Homo sapiens: one gene and its partners. The protein of the gene in region 2 interacts with the protein of the main gene of each other region in a pairwise test. Each region holds a gene or a part of one and is shown on either strand. Other genes may lie near its edges.

What was found.
Region 1: the proteins of TSPO2 (region 2) and TMEM80 interact in binary tests that used the Homo sapiens proteins (3 or more experiments, as listed by UniProt).
Region 3: the proteins of TSPO2 (region 2) and PLEKHO1 interact in binary tests that used the Homo sapiens proteins (3 or more experiments, as listed by UniProt).

What each region holds. Positions count from the first base shown.
Region 1 is NC_000011.10:691,699-698,840, reverse strand, and holds the start of TMEM80 (transmembrane protein 80), read right to left. Parts: upstream 3,019-7,142; 5' UTR 3,014-3,018; coding exon 2,995-3,013; intron 1-2,994. Other genes in the region: DEAF1 (deformed epidermal autoregulatory factor 1 homolog), read left to right, coding at 3,794-4,082.
Region 2 is NC_000006.12:41,037,959-41,044,862, reverse strand, and holds TSPO2 (translocator protein 2), read right to left. Parts: upstream 2,397-6,904; 5' UTR 2,085-2,396; exon of another isoform or gene 2,055-2,084; intron 1,898-2,054; 5' UTR 1,878-1,897; coding exon 1,705-1,877; intron 1,307-1,704; coding exon 1,165-1,306; intron 924-1,164; coding exon 726-923; 3' UTR 526-725; downstream 1-525. UniProt on the Homo sapiens protein: Cholesterol-binding protein involved in the redistribution of cholesterol from lipid droplets to the endoplasmic reticulum. Required to meet cholesterol demands during erythropoietic differentiation.
Region 3 is NC_000001.11:150,152,916-150,159,940, forward strand, and holds part of PLEKHO1 (pleckstrin homology domain-containing family O member 1), read left to right. Parts: intron 1-3,150; coding exon 3,151-3,291; intron 3,292-3,995; coding exon 3,996-4,100; intron 4,101-4,469; coding exon 4,470-4,571; intron 4,572-5,903; coding exon 5,904-6,608; 3' UTR 6,609-7,025. UniProt on the Homo sapiens protein: Plays a role in the regulation of the actin cytoskeleton through its interactions with actin capping protein (CP).

The DNA.
Region 1 (7,142 bases), on a different chromosome or scaffold from region 2:
CCTGACAGCCACCAGGATGCTTTCCCGGGTCTCGCTCCACACTGACAGGAACCACCCCTGCTTTATTTTCCTTTGATCTCGTATTTGTAGAAAGCAGCAAACATATACCGTGGGCCTGCCACTAGATAGCTCCCGTGCCTCTCTAACCATCCTTCAATGAGGCTAGGAGTCTCTGCCTTTCAGAACCTGAGGCTGGAGACAGCGAGTACCGGGGGCACCGGGGTGGGAAGTGAACCTGGGCCAGACCCAGCTGGCCCTCAGGGAAAGCAGCACCCTGGAGCCCACCCCAACAGCTGCTCTCATTGTCTGTGGCTCACCGTCTGTGGCTTCTCCGTATTTGCCACACATATATGACTAGATGAAAACCTTTTCTGACTTAGGTTGTAACAAATCTTTTTTCATGATTGATGAGACATTTGCTTTCCTCTGAAATTTTATCCCCAAATATCCCTCCAAAAATAAGGATTTTCCAAACCAGCAATGCAGCTGTCCAGTCTTTTTATCATGCAACCTCTTGGGCCTTCTCCCACCCCCACCTGAGAGATGACAGGAAGCCCGAGGAGTGAGTGGAGTCTCTTTCCTCCTTTTTGATTCTGAGGTTTTGCATCTGAAGACGCCTCTGACTCACCCTGGATCCACGCTGACCTGGAGCGGACTAATTGTCTGAAAAGGGCTCAGGCCAGTTGCACGTGTGATATGTGCACGTCCCTCCATGTGTAGATACCTCAATACACATCTAGAATTGGGTGGAAACCTCTCATAAAAGGAGGCTCAAGCTGCACCGCTGGGCGGCAGGCAGGACAGCAACCTGAACACAGCCTCTGTTCTATTTCCCCTTCAGCGCCAGGGAGGGCAGGACAGAAACCTGGCGTTGGTGAGATTTTGTGGCTGATCCCACAGCTTCTTGGGCAGATCTGGGGCCTTCTGTGCCAGAGTTTGTGGAATCTCACACAGGCAAGAGTTTTAAGCCAGTAAATACAGGACATCGGCATCAGAGACTCAGAACTGGGCTCCTGGAAGAGGCACCACAGGATGGAAGCAGGAAGCCAAGTGCACGGCAGACCACGCCGCATCGCGTTCCCGGCAGGCCACTCTTTAAACCCGATCTGTTCTTTTCCAGGCCTTAGCTAAACCAGGCCACCTAAATACCTGTCATTATCTGTGATGATTTCGCATTAATTGGGGTTTTTGTCCCTTCTGTTCCTTTTCTTAAAGGCTGGCTTCTTAAACACTTCCAATGTGTCTGCTAGTTGCTCACTGTTATAGATTGAAGTTATGGGGCTTGGGGGAAAAACTGTATAAAAGCCTTAAGTGATGTAACATTTTAATAATTAATATGAAGGGCGGCTATAACCAGATACGCTGTTCTAACAATTCCAGACCTGCAGGAGCTCATTCTGACCGAACGTAGCCTTGGCTTTCAGGACAACATTTTTTGTCAGTGACTTACTATAATCACAATGTGGCTACGAATAGCTGTGTCAGGCAGAAGTTAAACATGGAAGTGAAAGAGAACAAGTGTTTTCCCTGATGTAATGGACAAGATGTGTTAAGAAATCTTGTTTTGGTATACACTTAGTTTTTTTAGAGACAGGGTTTTGCTCTGTTGCCCAGGCTGGAGTGCAGTGGCCTGATCACAGCTCACTGCAGTCTCAACCTCCTGGGCTCCAGTGATCCGCCAGCCTCAGCCTCCCACGTAGCTGGGACCACAGGCTCCCTGAGGTAATTTTTTTTTTTTTTGAGACAGAATTTCGCTCTTGTTGCCCAGGCTGCAGTGCAATGGTGCGATCTTGGCCAACTGCAACCTCCGCACCCCACCCCCCCCACCACCACCACCGGGTTCGAGCAATTCTCCTGCCTCAGACTCTCAAGTAGCTGGGATTACAGGCATGCACCATCACGCCAGGCTAATTTTGTATTTTTAGTAGAGACGGGGTTTCTCCATGTTGGTCAGGCTGGTCTTGAACCCTCGACCTCAGGTGATCCGCCCGCTTTGGCCTCCCAAAGTGCTGGGATTACAGGCGTGAGCTACTGCGCCTGGCCTTCCCCGGGGTAATTTTTAATTTTTTTTTTGTAGAAGGGGGTCTCGCTCTGTCGCCCAGGCTGGAGTGCAGTGGCGCCATCACGGCTCACTGCAACCTCGACCTCCTGGGCTCAAGTGATCCGCCAGCCTCAGCCTCCAGAATAGCTTGGCCCACAGGGGTGCGCCACCGCCTGGCTGATGTTTACAGTTTTTTTTTTATAGAGGGGGTCTTGCTATGTTGCCCAGGCTGGCCTCAAATGATCCTGCAGCCTCGGCTTCCCAAACTGTCAGGCTTACAGGCCTGAGCCACTGCGCCCAACCTAAACTTAATTTTTAACCAAATGAAAATACACAAAACAAACCTGGTTACTAGAGGCTGTCCTGCCTATGGAGTAGCCATTCTTTATTCCTTCAAAACAATGCACCTAATTACTAGAGAACACGCACGAAGGTTTGGCACTTCAGCGCCCGCGTATGGGAGTTCTGGCTGTACCCACAGACAGCAGAAGGCGGCTCCTCTGCAGGATGGCCGATTTACTGCTTTGGTCTGTCCCTTCCTCCTCTCGGAGGCGAGTCTCTCAGGCAGGACGGCTGAGGCACCGGCGCCCGCGATTTTCTTTGGCGAGAGTTCCAAGGCTACCGAAACCCTGCGCCCATCCCGCCCACGTGTCTTCACAAAAACCACGCGCGGGACAAGAGCTGCCGGGGACTGGGGCCCCCAGAGCCGCTCCGCACCCACCCTGCCCGGGGCCAGGCGCCCGCGCGCGGGGGAGCTCTTCGGGGTGCAGGACGCCCGCCACCCAGGCCAGGCCAGGCCGCGCTTCTCGATGGGGTGACGGAGCTGTCTCGCTCACGTAGAGACGGTGGCACGGCCCCGTGAGCGCACCGAAAGCGGAAACCGGATTGTCACCACAGGGAAACGCCGCGCCCGCCGCTGCAAGCCCGGAAGCCCCCACCCCGCCCGAGCTCACCTCGCCGCGGGGCCGCCATCTTACCCGCCCCGCCCGCCGGTCCGTCGCGATCCCGGCAGCCTCTCGGCCCGCGCGCTCGCGCTCCTTCGGCCATTTTCGCGTCTCCTGACGAAGGGGCCCGACCGCGCCGCGTTTCGGGAGCGGACGTCCGAGCCACGGCCGAGGCCCGATTAGTCCGTCCGGCACCGCTCGGGCACTTTCGGAAGGGAAGAGGTGGAGAACCGACGTTCGGGAGCATTCGGCCTCGGGGACATTCGGCTCGTCTCGGCTCGGCCTCGGGCTGACTCGGCTTCCGCCGGCGGCGGGAACGGGCGAAACCCGCGGCACTAAGCTCTCTCTGAGAGGCAGAATTGCGCCGGCCGCCGGCGAGAATCTGCCTAGAGCCGTCCAGCCCTGTCGGCCGGGGACGACAGCCGCCTCAGCCTGTCAGGACAGTGAGGAGAGCAGGGGCCGAGTCTCTCGGAAGCCCTCGTGAGGACTCGGACCTATTCGGACTGATTCGGCTTCCCACTTCGGGGAACTTCGACCCTCCTCGGTTCAGGACTCGGTCTCGGCTCGGCGGCTTCGTGCAGGTTCGGCTCCTACTCGGGCAGCCTCTGTTCGCCTCGGCTCCGCTCCGCGGGCGGACTCGGCTCGGCTCTGCTCGGCGGCTGGCTGCCTTTTCGGTCCCTATTCGGGCGGCGGCTTCGGGCGGCCTCGGCCCAGCTCGGGCGTCCTCTTCGGGCCCCGCTTCGGGCTCCGCGACCGGCGCTTCGGGCGGTCCCGGACGGCGCCTTCGGGAAGGCTCGGCGGAGTCCGGATGGAGGACTCGGACTCGGCGGCAAAGCAGCTGGGCCTGGCTGAGGCGGCGGCGGTGGCGGCCGCGGCCGCTGTGGCGGCGGCGGCCGCGGCCGCGGCAGGAGGCGAGGCGGAGGAGCCGGTGCTGAGCAGGGACGAGGACTCGGAGGAGGACGCAGACTCGGAGGCGGAGCGGGAGACGCCGCGGGTCACGGCAGTGGCGGTGATGGCGGCGGAGCCCGGGCACATGGACATGGGCGCCGAGGCCCTGCCCGGCCCCGACGAGGCCGCCGCTGCCGCAGCCTTCGCAGGCAAGTGCGCCCGCCGGCCTCTCGCCTCGTCCGGTTCCCGCGCGCCTACCCCGCGCGCCTGCCCCGCACAACTGTCCCAGGTGACCAGCCCGCCACACCTGTCCCTCACACCTGCTCCACGTGACCAGCCCGCTCCACCCGCCCTGCACACCTGCCCCTCACACCTGCTCCACGTGACCCGCCCGCCCCACCCGCCCTGCACACCTGCCCCACGTGACTAGCTCACCCCTCACATCTGCCTCTCACACCTGCCCCACCCGCCCCTCACACTTTCCCCACGTACCTGCTCCAGGTGACCAGCCTGCCCCACCTGCCACAAATACCTGCCTCGCACACCTGCTCGACGTTTCCAGCCTTCCCCACCTGCCCCACGTGATCGGCCTGCCCTACCTGCCCCGCACACCTGCCCCACATACCTGCCCCAGGTGACCAGCCTGCCCCACCTACCCCAAACACCTGCCCCGCACACCTGCCCCTGGTGACCTGCCTAGCCTCACCTGACCTGGCCCTGCCCTGCACACACCTGCCCCCTGCCCCCCTTTTCTTTGTGGCAGCCCCGCCTCCTACTGGTCCCCCCTGTGCAGCTCTGCCCCTGCCCTGCCTTCGTCCATCCTGGCTCCCCCCACCTGTCCTGGAGAAGCCCTGGGGTGGGTGGGCACCTGTGGTCACCAGGAACCCCCCACTTCCTGAGGGCCAGTTCAGGCATGACCTGAGCGCTGGGGAGCCAGGGGTGGGCAGCCTGCTGGAGGCCATGATGCCAGAGGTCAGCGTGGCTGTGTGGTGGCCCAGGGGGGCTGCGGAGCCACCTGTGCAGGCTCCCCTCCCAGTCCTCCCTCTTCCTCTTGCCTTTTTCCCTAAGGACCTGCTCCTCCTGCCCCGCTTCCTGTCGGGCTTCCTTTGGGGAGGCTGCTGTGGCTTTCCAGTCCACATTTTTATATAAGCTGCTTATAGTTTCTTGCCACACAGGTCAGTCTCCTTCTCAGGCTCCAAAACACTGGGAGCCCGTGGCAGAGCTCACAGATGCCCTACGGGGCTGGTGCCGTCCACCCACCTCCTGTGTCCCGCCCTTGTGTCCGTGGGGCATAGACTTCCCCACCCACTGGCTTCCTAACGCACTGTATTCTTCCCCATTGGAGTTCCCGAGTGTCCCCCAGGGACTCACAGCTCAGTGTTGAGACCCTTGGGAGGAGCTTCTTGTTGCGTTGTGAGGCACTTTTCCCCTACGGAGCTTTGCGGGTTGAGGAACTGGATCCCAGTCCTGGTGTGCTGGGTATGTCAGGGCATTGCGTGTGCTCTGGGTGCTTGTTCGGCCTGGGGGCTGGGTGGGGGCCAGCAGCGTCTGGGCTGCCCTTGGTCAGCTGAGTGGCCCTCGAAGGCAAAGGGGTCACTGCTGCTTGTTTGGTTGGTTAAGAAAAAAAAGTGAGGGAAGGCTTTGTGACTCTCAGGGGTTGGCGTCCGTCGCTAAACTCTGGTTTGACGTTGGGATTTGGAGCCATGAGGTTGATTTCAGGTTTTTGTCATTTTTGCACGTATTTTTCTGAATGCATAAAAGAAAAATGATGCTGTTCATCATGATGTCAGAGAAATGTGCTGACGTGTGTTTTCTTCTGAAAAATATGGTAGTTGTGTTTTGATGTGGTAAAAGCACTTTAATACTTTTTAAAAATTACGAACAGCTGACGTCAAGTGGTTTCCAGGTTTAAGTAACTCAGCAGGACACGCTGCCGCCTGAGGAGGCTTTGGGCGGCTGCTCCCAGGGCTGCCATGGGCCTGGCGTTGAGCACTCACTGTGGCCGCGCGCCGCATGCCGGGGCTTGTGGTGCTGAGAGGCGAGGATGAGGGAACCGTGCACCTGGTGTGGTCTGGTCGTGGAGACAGACAGCAAACATGCCTTTTTTTTTTTTTGAGACGGAGTTTCGCTCTTGTTGCCCAGGCTGGAGTGCAATGGTGTGATCTCAGCTCACCGCAACCTCCCGCCTCCCGGGTTCAAGTGATTCTCCTGCCTCAGCCTCCCGAGTAGCTGGGATTACAGGCATGTGCCACCACGCCCGGCTAATTTTGTATTTTTAGTAGAGATGGGGTTTCTCTATGTTGGTCAGGCTGGTCTCGAACTCCTGACCTCAGGTGATCCGCCCGCCTTGGCATCCCACAGTGCTGGGATTACAGGCGTGAGCCACCGCGCCCGGCTGCAAACAGGCATTTTTAGGGCAGTTTGGTGAGTGCTGGGTTAATGGTATGGTCAGGACTCATTCAACCAGTATCTTTTAAGCATCTGCTGTGTGCCAGAGATTGCCCTGGACACAGGACATTCTAGAACTCTGGGTGACAGAAGAGCCACTTGCTTGGCCTAGGAGCATCACAGGAAGACTTTGCAGAGGCAGAGAGGAGGGTGTGGGGGTGTTGGCGGCAGAAAGTGTTTCTCTAGAAACACTCCAGCATGTAGAGGCTGGAGCTGCAGGACCTATCTGGGATGACAGGGGCAGGAGGTGGGGTGCAGCTGACCTCTGTGGTAACTGCCCTGTGTGCAGATGCTGCTGAAGGGCCTGTCTGCATGCCAGGGGGCTGAGTTCCATGTTGTAGGGGGTGCGGTGGGGTGGCACCAAGGGACATAGGCAGGTTAGATGTACTTTTTAGGAGGAAGGGGTCAGAGACCAAGGGCAATGGCTGTGAGCATGGGGCCGAGGTCACCTGACGATGGTGGCCTGACCCCTGCGGTGGAGGAGAGGCAGGAATGGAGCTACAAGAGTGGGTCCAGGAGGTGTCCTCACCTGCGGGGAGGCCGAGAGCTCCTCGTAGGCATAGGGCACACCTGACCAGCAGAACCCACAGCTGTGCCGCAGAAGGAGATAGAAGCCCCGTGGTGGTTTGATAGAGCTGGGGCTGGCTGGGGTGGCGGGTTTGTTGTATGCATTTTTTACTGCACGTAAAAGGCTTTACTGGGGAAGAATAGATTTCCTCTCTTTTTCCTGGAAGAGCCGAATGACTTAGACAATGGAATAGAAATGTAGGTCGAGCGTGTTCATGGAAGTGTTAAGATCTTCCTGGTTACAAGGGCACACA
Region 2 (6,904 bases):
GTGCAGTGGCATGATCTCGGCTCACTGCAACCTCCTCTTCCCCGGGTTCAAGTGATTCTCCTGCCTCAGCTTCCTGAGTAGCTAGGACTACAGGTACTCACCACTGCACCCAGCTAATGTTTGTATTTTTGGAGGCAGGGTTTCACCATGTTGGCCAGGCTGGTCTCGAACTCCTGACCTCATGATCCACCCGCCTTGGCCTCCCAAAGTGCTGGGATTACAGGTGTGAGCCACCACTCCTGGCCCCCTAGTACCCTTTTTTAAGGTGTATTTTTCTGTTTTGGCTTTTTTGTCACTTTTAAAAAGCCTTTTGTTTTTCAGGTAATTAAACATCTGAGTGCTAAATCTTTATGCCAGGTGGGGAGGCATGTGAATGGAGGCGAGCTGGTGTGCCCACCCCTCCCCCATGGGCCTTCACACATTCATTCACGCGCACACACTCACACAGAGGTCCAGAAGCTTCTATCCCACTCTGCCGCCCTAGTCATCATATTATGCATTCAAATACACACTTCACATCATACCTTCAGAGTTACTAATAGGATTTTATTATTTAAGTGTAAAATCAGTTTCCCCCCCTTTCCCATTTCTCTGATTTCTAAGGAAAAACGGCACCAGGGGACCCAGGAGGGTGGTCCCATTGGGGTGAACCCTAACTCCACAGCCCTGCTTGCAGACTCTTCCTCCCCACCCTGGGCGTCCCTCCTCTCCCATGCCCTAGGGCCTCAGTCACTCTTCTCCGTGGGCTGAGGCTGGTGCACTGGACAAAGGCTGTCCCTCCACAGGTGGTAGGTGAGGGCTGAAGTCACGGTGAGCCAGGCTAGGTAGGGCAGCAGTAACAGGGCAGCCAGTTTGTTGATGGGATGCCAGATCAGTGCTGTGCTCACCACCAGCCCATACAGCAGCAGCAGGTGCAGCAGGGCCTGGGCATAGAGGCCGGGGGTCAGCTGGCTGCCCGAGAACCAGCACCTCCACCTTTCTGCAGTACCCAGCCCAGCAACGAGCTCAGTCCCTGGGGCTCTGTGCACACCATGGGAGTGCAGAGAAGTCTGCCCACCCATTACCTGCCTGCACTCAATTGCTCTGCTGAATTATGTGCTTCTGGAGCCAGGTGGTTTCACCCTCTCCCACATTACTTCTGCTACTGAGCACTGTGTGCCTTACCAGACCAGGGTTGTGGACTGTGAAAAAGAGAACCAGGACAGTCCAGCTGATGGTGAGCTGAACAGCATAGAGGCCAAGAGGCAGGGCCAGGGGCCACCCCAAGCCCCCTCCCAGGTCCTTCCACACCAGGTAGGAGGCATAGCTGTGGAGACATGGTGGCAAAAACATTCAGTGGGAGGAGGTTCCGTGGCAAATGGAGGAGGCTCTCTGGCATAAGGACTCTTGGATACCCTTGTGGGCTGAAATGGGGGCAGATGGGTTTAGGCATCATGTAAGGGCCAGGGAGGGAGTTGGTGGGAGGAGCTGGGCATGGTGAGGTGGAGGAGGGGCTGGGGAGACTTAGAGAGGGTGGAAGAAGGGCTAACTGGAACCCCAGGCAGGCATAGAGGGTTTCTTACTTTCTGGAGGACCCACTATGGTGGTGAGAGGCAAGACAAAGCGCCTACCTTTGGAGGCCAATATATGGGAGTAATTCAGATATAGAGGACTTGTTCCCACCCCATTGGGTACCAGGGCCATGTGTGAGAAACAAGTACTCACCCCACGACAGAGTAGATGGCTGTCTGTACAAGCAATAAGACTTTGTAGAATGGGCACCAGGACAGCATCCTCGGGCCCTCACACCAACCAGACATGTGATCACGAGTGAACAGCCAGACCAGGATGGGCCCCAGGTGGGGCAGGAGCACAAAGATAGCCCCTTGAAGCCGCATTCACCTTGAAGAGGCAAAATCTGGGGAGGCAGAGAACATGCTAGTGATGAGCCTTCCCCTGCGGCTCCTCGTCTGTCTCTGCCTCCTAACCTGACTCATTTCCTGGCCTGAGCCCCTCAGAGAAGGTCTACTCACGGAGGTCCTTCCTCTCTCCCTGGCCCAGCTCCAGTCCTGTACCTCTGAGCTCTCTCCAACCCCAGGCCACACCTTGCCCATCTCCTGGCTTCCATGGACTTCTTTTCTCCACAGCACTCCTCTGGCACTTGGAGGACACTGCCCAGCACTGGTAACTGCTTCTAAGTGAATAGGCCTTCCTCCAAGTGCTTCTGAGTCCTGGAGATCAGGTCCCGGGTGATGAGCTTTTCTGCAGTGGGCAGCGCTTAGCCAGGTATGTAGCTGGCCCTCACCGAGAACTGTTCTACCTAAGCTGATCTACCAACCTGGAAAGTTCACAATCTGAAGGCAGGAGCCAGAAATTCCTGGGGACTCTTTTCTAGTCACGAATGCGGCAGCACATCTGTCCCAGGCTTATCTCACCATATCAGACTGGCACACTCATGGGGCCCACCCAGGCTGATCTCCTGCCCAAATTCAAACTTGGCCTGTTGACACCGTGGATTCCTTTTTCTGAACTTTTAGCTCTCTTCTACCCCTGGAGCCATGGGGTATGAGCTTCCTGCTCCATCTTTCCATTCCCAGAGTGTCAGGATGTAAGCACAAGCATCCAGGTTTCTTGTGGCCTGACTTTTCAAGGAAACAACTGCCTGGTCTTTGATTAAAAAGCTGCCAAGGTGGCATGTTGCTTTGCATGTCATTTGCATGTGGGACAATGTACAGACCCTCCTCCAGCCAAGGCCCCACCAAGGCCCCACAAATATCATTCTTCTCATTTGTTCATGATATTTCAGCCTCCCCCCATGATTAACCAGATTTGAAGGAGAGAAAACAATCTGATTATTTTCAGTATTCTGGACTGACTATCTAATCCATCCTTTTTTTTTTTTTCTTTTCATACAGAGTTTCACTCTTGTTGTCCAGGCTGGAGTGCAGTGGTGCAATCTCGGCTCACTGCAACCTCTGCCTCCCTAGTTCAAGTGATTCTCCTGTCTCAGCCTCCCTAGTAGCTGGGATTACAGGCGTGCGCCACCATGCCCGGCTAATTTTGTATTTTTAGTAGAGATGGGGTTTTGCCATGTTGGTCAGGCTGGTCTCGAACTCCTGACCTCAGGTGATCCACCCGCCTTGGCCTCCCAAAGTGCTGGGATTACAGGCATGAGCCACTGTGCCTGGCCCTAATCCATCCTTTTCTGTCAAGGGTCAGGGACACTGGTCCTGGAGGTTCTGGGACAGAGCTGAGCAGCATGCCCACCTGTGCATATTTCTACTTGTCTTTCTGTGCTCCTGACTGTCCGTTTGCTCATCTTCTGCCTTCCTGTTTTTCTACATTTCTGTCCAGTGGTGGAGGCCCCCTCCCTGCCCCTCCCTGCCCCCATCCTCTTTTCTCCTGACACCTGCCTCTCCCAGTGCCTCCTGGTTCCTAGGCCTGTGCTCCCCTTACCTCTGGCAGCACACCTCCCAGGCGGGGGGCCTGATGACATATGATGTGTGGAAGGCAGAGGAGGGTGGGGCTGGGAGGAGGGTGGGGCTGGGAGGAGGGTGGAGTGGTGCTCCCTGCTGATCTGCCTTTCTCAGATGAGAAGGGTGGTGACACTGGCTGGGAAGTCCAAGTTGCTGTTTCATGGCCCCAAAGAGTTCCTCTCAGGAGGAGCCCCTCTGGTCTGCCAGACCCTCCTTGGTGCCTGGCCTCTGGAGGCTACCCCTTGATGGAATGTTTGAGGGCTTGTGGTGAGGGTTTGACACTGGCCCTCCTGTGACAGCTCAGCCCCCAGTTATAATGCTGTTGATGCCTGTGGTCTTTGCATCCCATGAACCAGCTCTGTGGCCATGGGAGTGAGTGGTAGGAGCCTTCACATTTCTTCAGAGCCTCCTTATAATTGGGATTGTCCCCAAGAGTGGCAAGAACTAGCTTGGGAAGTGAGTTCATAATCCATGAACACAGCCCCTGGTTATAGCCTCCTGGTTGGCATGACCTTCCTGGCTTAGAACCCTAGCTTGACAGATCTTTCACAAACCCCTAGGACTTTATGACTCAGAGGAGAAGGCAGCTGACAAGTGGAGGTGGGTGGGGAGTCAAGGAGGAGTGACCTGGCGCTTCCTGGCAGAAAGTCCTGCCTCCCAGCCGCCCTAAAGAGGGGTAGGGGAGAGTGTCCCTGTCTGTTGGCAAAGTCCAGCCTCCTGTGTGACTCAGACAGAGCTTTGTTCAACAAAGACAAACACCCCTACCCCACTCCTTTCATTCCCTATCAAAGTTCTGAGCACCCCTTCCTGGCTTGTCTTTAGGCATGAGGTCTGCTTCCCAGGTTGCCCGCTCTCTACCATCTCTGCACTTTGGGGTACTGGGCTCCCCTGGGAGGTTTATTCCACCCTCTCACCTCCACCAGGGAAGGAAGCAGAGGGGAGGGCATTGCAGTCAGAGACAAGAGGCTAGAGAATTATTAACTGAGACAAAAGCAGAGGAAGTTACTTATTTTCTATGGGAGATGATAACTAGGGGCCTGGGGGGGCGTTCACCATGCCTCCTCAACTGCAGGAGGCCAGACCCTGGTGACAACGGTTACCATCTATTGACCACCCATTCTGTGGTGGGCATTTGACATTTATTAGCTCAATAATGACAATTATTATCTCACACAAGGTAGATATTCTTAACTGCATTTGACAGACAAGGGAATTGAGGTTCAGAGGAGTTAAGTAGCTTGCCCAATATTACATACCCAACGTGTGGCTCACCTGGGCTCAGTGTTGGCCAGTTGGAGCCAAAATGCATCCTTTTCCCTCTCAACTGCTTCACTCATTCATTCAAGACATGTTTATTGAACACCTTCTATCTATCAGGCTGTACCAGGAGCTGAGGAGACAGCCGAAAACATGGGAAAAGTTCCACAAGGAGTTTTCATTCTTGTGGTGCCACCGCTCCTAGGCAGAGTTTTAAGAACTCAGAATGGCAAATGGCCCCAAAGTTCAGTTGTCTCCCAACCGGCAGTGTCTCTGCCAACTTTGGGTGGGGGAAGTAGAAAGCACCTTGTGTAAGGAAAAATATGGGTACATCTCAGGTCCACCAGCAACTGGTGAGTCATTAACCGTCTCAGTGGCTCCACTGTCTTCTCTGTGTGGGGAGCGGGTGGAACTAGATGCTCTCTAAGCTCCTTGGACCGGTTGCATTGGCATCAGCTGGGAGCTTCTTTGAGCTGCAGAATCTCAGGCCCCATACTAGACCTACAGAATCAGAGCCTGCATTTTAACAAGATCTCCCAGGTGACTGTTGTGCACATTATAGTTTAAGAAACTCAGATGAAGGTTCCCTCCTCCTCCTATCTGCTATTTTAATAATAGCCTCTGGCTGGGGACAGCCACTCACCAGCAGAGGGCACTGTAAGGAGGGGTTTCAAGGTGCAGCACCTACACCCAGGTTGTCTCCCTGCCTCCCTCCTTCCTTCCAGACCTAGACTGGAAAGTTCACTGACTTCTGGGATCCTCAGCTAATCCCTTACCTGGGCTGGACTTTGCCAATAGACAGGGACACTCTCCCTCACCCCTCTTTAGACAGCTGGGAGGCAGGGCTCTGCCAGGAAATGCCAGGCCACTCCTGCCTGGATTCCCCGCCCACCTCCACTTGTCTGCTGGCCTGCCGACTGAATCTGGCTGACCCTTGTTTCTCGGAGAAGGAACTGGACCAGCCAGCAGCCTCTAAGAGCTCCTAGACGGTAAGTTGAGCACCCCCTTGGGGCAGCTGGAGAGGGGATGGGCATTGTGATGGGGTTACCTGGAGCTTCGGGGGAGGAGCCAGGCCAGCTTAGCCTGCCTGCTGGAGTGTAGGGACCCTCTGCTGGAGGAGGGGAGGAAAATGGGACTTGGCCAATGGGTATGAGGACCACTGGGATGATTCTGTGTCCTGCGGAAATGTCTACTATACTAACAAATGCCATTCATGACTTGGGTTTGGACCATCCATCCCAGTACTTGTTATGTTCTGCAGTAACTGGACATCTATCAGGTGTTGGGGAGGCACAGGGAGAACCAGTGAGGTGGAGGAAAGGTTGAGAGTTTTCTTAAAGGGTATGAGCAGAACTTTGCAGCAGGAGTTTGGATCTTTGTGCTGGAGGATGCAACTGCCTAGGGACAGGTGATGGCAGCATTCTAAAGGACTCTCGTTTCGGGGACCCGCTACCCAGGGTGATCTGGGGTCTGGAGCAAGACAGACTGGAGGAGTGGGTAATGAGGAGTCCAGGCATGGGGTTGGGATGCCCCAAGTCACACTCGAATGGCTGCAGTGCTATAGTTGCCATTCAGCAAGACTCCGGACCTTTCCCCATTCTGGAGCCAGAGGGAGGATGCAGTGAGGGCCAGGGCAGCCTGGAAGAGCAGTCACCCTGGGAGAGGCCCAGTGGGGCTTTGGGAGTGGTGCATGCCAACTTCTCCAGGGTCGGAGGTTGAGCCAGGGGACTCTACTGCACCACCCAGTGAGGTGCACCTCACTGGGGATCTGGACTCTGGTCTTTGGTGGCCCCAGGAAGGTTACTGCTGTGTAAGCGAGCTGGGGCCCCTCCTTTCATCCCTTTAGCAATTCCATCCCCTGCCACTGGTACCTTGGTAGGTGGGGGTGTGGTGTAGTGGGGTGGGTATTACCACATAACTGAGGATGTAAATTTAGGTCCTTCTATTTGTCTTTACTTCATTTTTGCTTCTTTCTCTTCCAACTTTATTTCTTCTAGAGAAGGAAAGGAAGATACTTGGGGAAAAGAAGGGGTGGAGAGAGAAAGGGGGTATCTCTGGAAGTCCTTGTTCGTCTTTGCTCCTCCTTCCTGCCTGTCTTCAGTTGTTTAGTAATTCCCTATCCATCTTCACTGTGGGGAGAAAGCTCGGATTCCTTATCTGTGAAATGGAGATAAAAATAACACCTCGCTCCT
Region 3 (7,025 bases), on a different chromosome or scaffold from region 2:
TACAGAGACAGAGGAAAGGATGGAATGACCTCAGCCTAGGATATCTGGTGTCCTATGAGTCAGGACCATCTGACTGGTCATGGAGCCAGCTGTCTCCTGCTGGGAAGGGCACAGGAAAGAGGGACTAGGCATATTGATACTGTGCTTTTTTAGAGCCAGTTTCAATGCTACAGTGGGCCTGGTTAAAAAGTGAAATTGACAGAGTACTCTGGGCTTTATTTTGCCCACTTGTGAAAAGCTCCAGGGCCAATAGAATCAAGACACGGTGTTCTGTTTTGTTTTGTTTTTTAGAGACAGGGTCTCACTCTGTCGCCCACGCTGGAGTGCAGTGTCACAATCGTAGCTCACTGCTGCCTTGACCTCCCGGGCTTAAGCAATCCTCCCACCTCAGCCTCCGGAGTAGCTGGGACTACAGGCATGCACCACCACACCCAGCTAATTTTTTTTATTTTTTGTAGACATGGGGTCTCACTATGTTTCCCAGGCTGGTCTCAAATTCCTGGCTTCAAGTGATCCTCCTGCCTCAACCTCCTGAAATTCTGGGATTATAGGCGTGAGCCACAGTCCCTGACCAAGATTTTTTTTTTTAAGGCAGAGTATAATCTATATCATTTACTGTTAATGCAAGAAAATTTCTAACCCTATCTCCCAGAATTTTCACCAGTCTCTTTTGTTATTTCCTCTCTTAAAGGCAGGGTCTCCCACAACCACCTCTGCCGTAGAATTTCTTCTGTGTTCGATAGTAATCATTTTCTTCCTTCTCAAAGGGCATCCTCTCTCAAAGAGGGCTGGAGCACCTTATGATCACAGGCTGATGTGTAAGAACAGAAGCTAGACCTTAGGAAGACCTCATGGTGGAGGAAATTGGATTCGGGGCAACTCTTTGGACAGGCGTGGGAAAAATCCCTTTCTATAGTCAAGGACGAAGAATCAGGGGAAAGGAAGGGTTAATTTGGAAGATGGGTAGTTATAAATGAGACTCTGGGAATTAGATATGTGGGGAAAAAAAAAACAATATGGTGGAGAACAAGGCTGCTTGGCTTTGTCCATCTTCCCAGGCACTGGAATATACTTGTCCTACTGCTTGCCTCACCCCATCTCCCACCCTCTCCACCAAGGGCTAACCTCTATCAGTGTCTCCTGCTCCCCAGAGCTCCTAATCAGTCTGTATGCAAGGTAGAATAACTCCCTTTCCTTCCCTTCCCCTAAGGAAAACATAGTAAGTTAACTCTCTTCCCCTGGCTACATTCACACACCCAACACTTTCCTCTCCACGGTTTCTGGGCTCTGCTGATAGTCTCAGCTCTGGAGAAGGAGGGGGAGAGGAGGGATGATGCATCATCTTGTATCCCTGTCCCGTGTTTCTGGGAATTGCTCTTGGACACCCCTTGCCAGCACCTTGTCCTACTTCCACCCGTAATCATTCAAGGCCTCTGGCCACTTTCCAGCCCAAAGCCAGGGAACCCTGGAAAGTGGGAGGCCCTGGAGGAGCCAAGCCTTGCTGAAACAAATGGAGGTAGATGTATGAGGCGTCACTCACCTGAATGGGGCCATGTTGACATCTGTCCTCATCTGTCATCAGCCTCCAGGTCCAGCAGCAGTTCAGAAGGATGGGCAGATACAAGACTGTAGATGGTCTGGGTAATGGAAGGGAGAACCACTTCCCCACTTCCAGGTTTCCAGGAACCAGGAGGATAGATGAGTTCACCTCCATGCACACGAGTCCTATTTCAGAACTTGGGAAGTTGGGGACTGTTTTGGAAAATAATTTCAGTCAGGGTGGGTAGATGTCATCCAAGGAAGACGTGAGGCTACTTTTATCTGTTTGTTTAGTTTTAATGAGACAAGTGCTGGTGCTTTTAATTCTCATTCCAGGAAAACGTGACCAGGTTTTTCCTGAGGTGTTCCAACCCTGGGCTCAAGCCACGGAGGGTGGACAGACTGCACGGTCTGGACTTGTAACTAAGTCTCCTCTCTGTAACTTTGGTCCTTGCTAGCCAAAACAAATCCATAAGCCACTGCTTCAGAGTCCCAGAGTTGTAGGAACACCACCTTAGGGGAAAAGAGAAAACATTGTGGTCAGTTTCAGATGAACCTGCGAAGAAATGTTCCTAGAGCTGCTTTGCAGTGCTCAGAAAAGGCTAGTTGGGGTTGGAGAATGTCACTAGGAATGCGGCCTCGATGAGACGTTCAGCAGGAGTGCTAAGAGCTAAATGTTGCTTAAAACCTGCTAAAGGTGGAACCAGAGTGCGGGACGGAGACTATAGCAGGGAGGGCTAAGTTTAGATAGGAGGAAGAGCTTCCTGGCAGTAAAGGGGGCCCAGGCACTCAAACTGGAATAATGGCAAGAAGTCACAGAAGTCACTTTTTTCCAAGTCTAAAGTGTAGTCTCCCAGGGAGAGTCTAAGTGCATTCTTGCCTAGAGATAGGGGGTCTGGAGGAGTTAGTTTGGATTGTCACAGTACCTTAGAGGGAGGAGGAAAGGGTAGGAACTGTAATTGTAGTTTTCAGCTTCTCTGGACAAATTCAGCAAACTGAACACGGGGCTGCCGTCCTGTGGTGGCGATGCTCCTGAAATGAACAAGGAAGATGAGTCTCTATAATTGTACATACCAGAGAAGGAAGCGAGGTGGGGTGGGAGAGCTATACTGCACACATGTGAGTGGGGAGGCCAGAGACCGCCCCTCGTTCCCTCCAGACACCCCGATAACTGGCCCTGCCTTGATCTTCTTTCTGTGGACCATCAAGGGCCATACAGGTCTGTCTTACTGAGGGCAATGGATCAACCATCTACCATGTCCCTTTAAGGACGTGAGCCTTTTTAGAACATGTAAGCTGTGTCCTTAAGGAAAAGAGTGGGGCGGTTGGTGAAGAGAGGCATAGTGGGACTCTGGAAATGGCAGCCTGGCTAAGGAGAGTGAAGAGAAGGGGTTTAAACAGAAACACACCTTAACATTCAAGACTTGGAGCTGCCCTAGCGTCCTCCTCGATGTGAGGACCTTGTAGGCTTTGGGCAGACGGCCCTCTCCTCTCCTGGCGTGCCTCCCTCTCCTCAGGCTTCCTCTGTTTCCCAAGATGATCTAAACTAACAGTCTGGGTGGAGGGGCTAAATAATTTTATCCTCCTCACCTCACCCCAACCCTCCCCTAGGTAAAAGATGAGAAAAATATTCAAGAGGTATTTGACCTGAGTGACTATGAGAAGTGTGAAGAGCTCCGGAAGTCCAAGAGCAGGAGCAAGAAAAATCATAGCAAGTTTACTCTTGCCCACTCCAAACAGCCCGGTAACACGGTATGTTTCTCCTGCCACCTTGGCTGCTGGAACATGGACAGGGTTGGAGGGGGCAGGGGAGAACTCCTTCCCCTCAGTTTCTCTCTCAGCAATCTTGGTTCAGATTCCCTGAATTGCTCTCCTGCTGGCTTTTATCATTTCACCTGAGAATATTGTAGCCATTTCCTTCTTTCCAGGCAGGCCACCCTTTAACCTGTTCAGCCACAAAGATCATCTCTCTATATATCTCTTTATTTTTCTCTGTCTTATACACACACATCCACACATGTGCATATTTACATCCCTTAGAAGAAAATCCCTGTCCTTGTACCCTGATAGGTGGTTGAAGTTCTGAATCTAATTCATCTTGTCTGAGGGAACCCAGGGAAGTTATTCCTGTCACATTCTATTTCTTCAAACATTGAAAGATTTGTATTTTAATACCTATCCTTCATCAGACTTCCTCTAATTATCTCTAATACCATACTAATATTCAGTATCCTTCTTAGCTCCTCCTTGGTCATTTCTAAAACAACCTCCTAGCTATGCATTTTGCAGGAATAGAAGCTGGGTTTCCTTAAGTTATGGATGACTCTGGAAGCAGAATATCTCTCCTTCCTGGAGCTAGGTCTAAGAAAGTGAGATTATAATCTCTTATTTCTTCATTGTCAAGGTGAGGCACCACCTCTAAAACCCTGGCTGAAACAGGAATCTTCCCCTCACAGGCACCCAACCTGATCTTCCTGGCAGTGAGTCCAGAAGAGAAGGAATCGTGGATCAATGCCCTCAACTCTGCCATCACCCGAGCCAAGAACCGTATCTTGGATGAGGTCAGGGGGCTCACTGTGGGGAGAGGGAGGAACGCTGGGGCAGAGGGAACAGCTGTGACCCACTGAAGGGGGAGGATTGTGCAGGCCCCGTTTACTCGCTCCTCCACCAGCTCTACTTCTTTACCACCCTTTTAAAAGCCCTGATCTCTTTCTACCTTCTCTCCAAGTCTCATCTGACACCTCCTCTTCCCCGCTTCATGATGGGGGAGCCAGCCTTGGGTCAGCTTAAAGAGCCCCCTTCGTGTCCAGTAAATCCCCTTGCCCATTCAGAAGCAGTGAATGGAGTGGGCACATGTTCAGGCCTCGGGATGCTGGGTTGGGACAGCGAGTCGCTGAAGAGCACTCATGATTCACAGTACATCTCTTCAGGTCACCGTTGAGGAGGACAGCTATCTTGCCCATCCCACTCGAGACAGGGCAAAAATCCAGCACTCCCGCCGCCCCCCAACAAGGGGACACCTAATGGCTGTGGTATGTAAGACTGTAATAAACATTGCCAAAGGGCCAATTCTGTGTCAGTCCATCTCAGACAGAACTGTATGCCACCAGAGGCATTTGCGGGAGGCCTCCTTGATGCCAAGATCAAAGGCGAGGGAAGTCCTTCCACCCAATGCCTCTGCCAGATCTAAATCAAAAGGTTTTATTCAGCGCCCATTAGGAGTTCAAAAGTCCCAGCTCCCAGTAATGTTACCCTCTTTCGGAGAAAATGAGTTATACCCACAGGAAAATGAAAAATTAGCTACTGTATGGTGGCTGTCTTGATGGGTAACAACATGTAGTACCGCGGGTGTTTGGAGGAGAAAGGATCACAATGAACTCCTGAAACATACAACGTGCTAGTTTCTTTCATGCCTCTGAGCTCTTAAGTCTTCAGAGAGAGAGGCAGGCAGGTATAATGCAGAGAACACAGGCTTTGGAGTTAGAACCTGAGTTGGAACCTCACTGTAATCAGCTACCTGTGTGGTTCCCTGAAGTTGCATGTCTCCAACTGTAAAATGAGGCAGTAATCATGCCTGCCTTGAAGGGCTGCTGTGAGGAATGACTAAAACAACATATTTGGTATTGAATACTCATCATTTTTAGTATTCTGGAAATAAGAGAACAAATTTTATTATAAGGCAAGGGGGCTGAAGTGTGGGACTCAGAGGATGCAGATGGAGGAGGACAGTCGTGCCATGGGGAGCATCCTGTGTGCATCAGATGCAGTTTAATTGCTGAGAGTCCACAATACCAAGGAAGAGGGCGCCCCTCAGGAAGCTTATGGTAGAGTGGAGAATACAGGAAACAAGTAACAAACTAAATCACAGAAGAAGAAACATTCAAGTCACTATCAAAGGAATAAGAAACAGCACATTCAGTAGGAGGGTTCAGTCAAGAGCAGAGGGCTTTGCCAGGCAGGGGGGCTCACACCTGTAATCCCAGTACTTTGGGAGGCTGAGACGGTGTATCACTTGAGGTCAGGAGTTTGAGACCAGCCATGGCCAACATGGTGAAACCCTGCCTCTGCTAAAAATACAAAAAAAAAGAGCTGGGCGTGGTGGTGCACGCATGTAATCCCAGCTACTCGGGAGGCTGAGGCAGGAGAATGGCGTGAACCCGGGAGGCGGAGCTTGCAGTGAGCTCAAATCGTGCCACTGCACTCCAGCCTGGGTGACAGAGCAAGACTCTGTCTCTAAAAAAAAGTACTTCTCATTCAAGGAAGGCTTGTAGAGGAAAATGACCACAGCTTGCATCTTTTAGGCAGTCATTCCGAAAATCCCTCCTGATGACAGGTTCCCCACTCATTCCCCCCTTCCTCCACAGGCTTCCACCTCTACCTCGGATGGGATGCTGACCTTGGACTTGATCCAAGAGGAAGACCCTTCCCCTGAGGAACCAACCTCTTGTGCTGAGAGCTTTCGGGTTGACCTGGACAAGTCTGTGGCCCAGCTGGCAGGGAGCCGGCGGAGAGCGGACTCAGACCGCATCCAGCCCTCCGCAGACCGGGCAAGCAGTCTCTCCCGACCTTGGGAAAAAACAGACAAAGGGGCCACCTACACCCCCCAGGCACCCAAGAAGTTGACGCCCACAGAGAAAGGCCGCTGCGCCTCCCTGGAGGAGATCCTATCTCAGCGGGATGCTGCCTCTGCCCGCACCCTCCAGCTGCGGGCTGAGGAACCCCCAACCCCTGCCCTCCCCAACCCGGGGCAGCTGTCCCGGATCCAGGACCTGGTAGCAAGGAAACTGGAGGAGACTCAGGAGCTTCTGGCAGAGGTTCAGGGACTGGGAGATGGGAAGCGAAAGGCCAAGGACCCCCCTCGGTCTCCGCCGGATTCTGAGTCAGAGCAGCTGCTGCTGGAGACGGAACGGCTGCTGGGAGAGGCATCATCGAATTGGAGCCAGGCAAAGAGGGTGCTGCAGGAGGTCAGGGAGCTGAGAGACCTGTACAGACAGATGGACCTGCAGACCCCGGACTCCCACCTCAGACAGACCACCCCGCACAGTCAGTACCGGAAGAGCCTGATGTGAGGGCAGGGTGGGGTCTGGAACTTGTCGGGTTGGACAGACTCTTATCTCCGTGTTGCTGGATAAAGCTTTTTTATTTACCTCAATCAAAAAAAGAAAACAAAAATGAACTCATTGCTCTTGCTGATGCCTGACCCCACTACAACCCTTATTGCCCCACCTACTTTCCATATGCCCCTCGTATGCCCCTCAGGTTTGAGGAAGTGACCCCGCAGCAGTAGCAGGAAGTTTTTACCCAGCCAGAGAGAGAGAAGGCACGGTAAAGACACAGTCTGACCACTCCACACACCGCCCGCCCCCAAGACGGCACAGGGAGTCCACTGCTGCTCCCAAGGATACAGTGGGCTTCTAAGCTTAGAGCGGGAGGGGGATGAGGATGTTTTCTGTTATGTCCCACCCCAGGCCTTCAGTTTGAGGGTG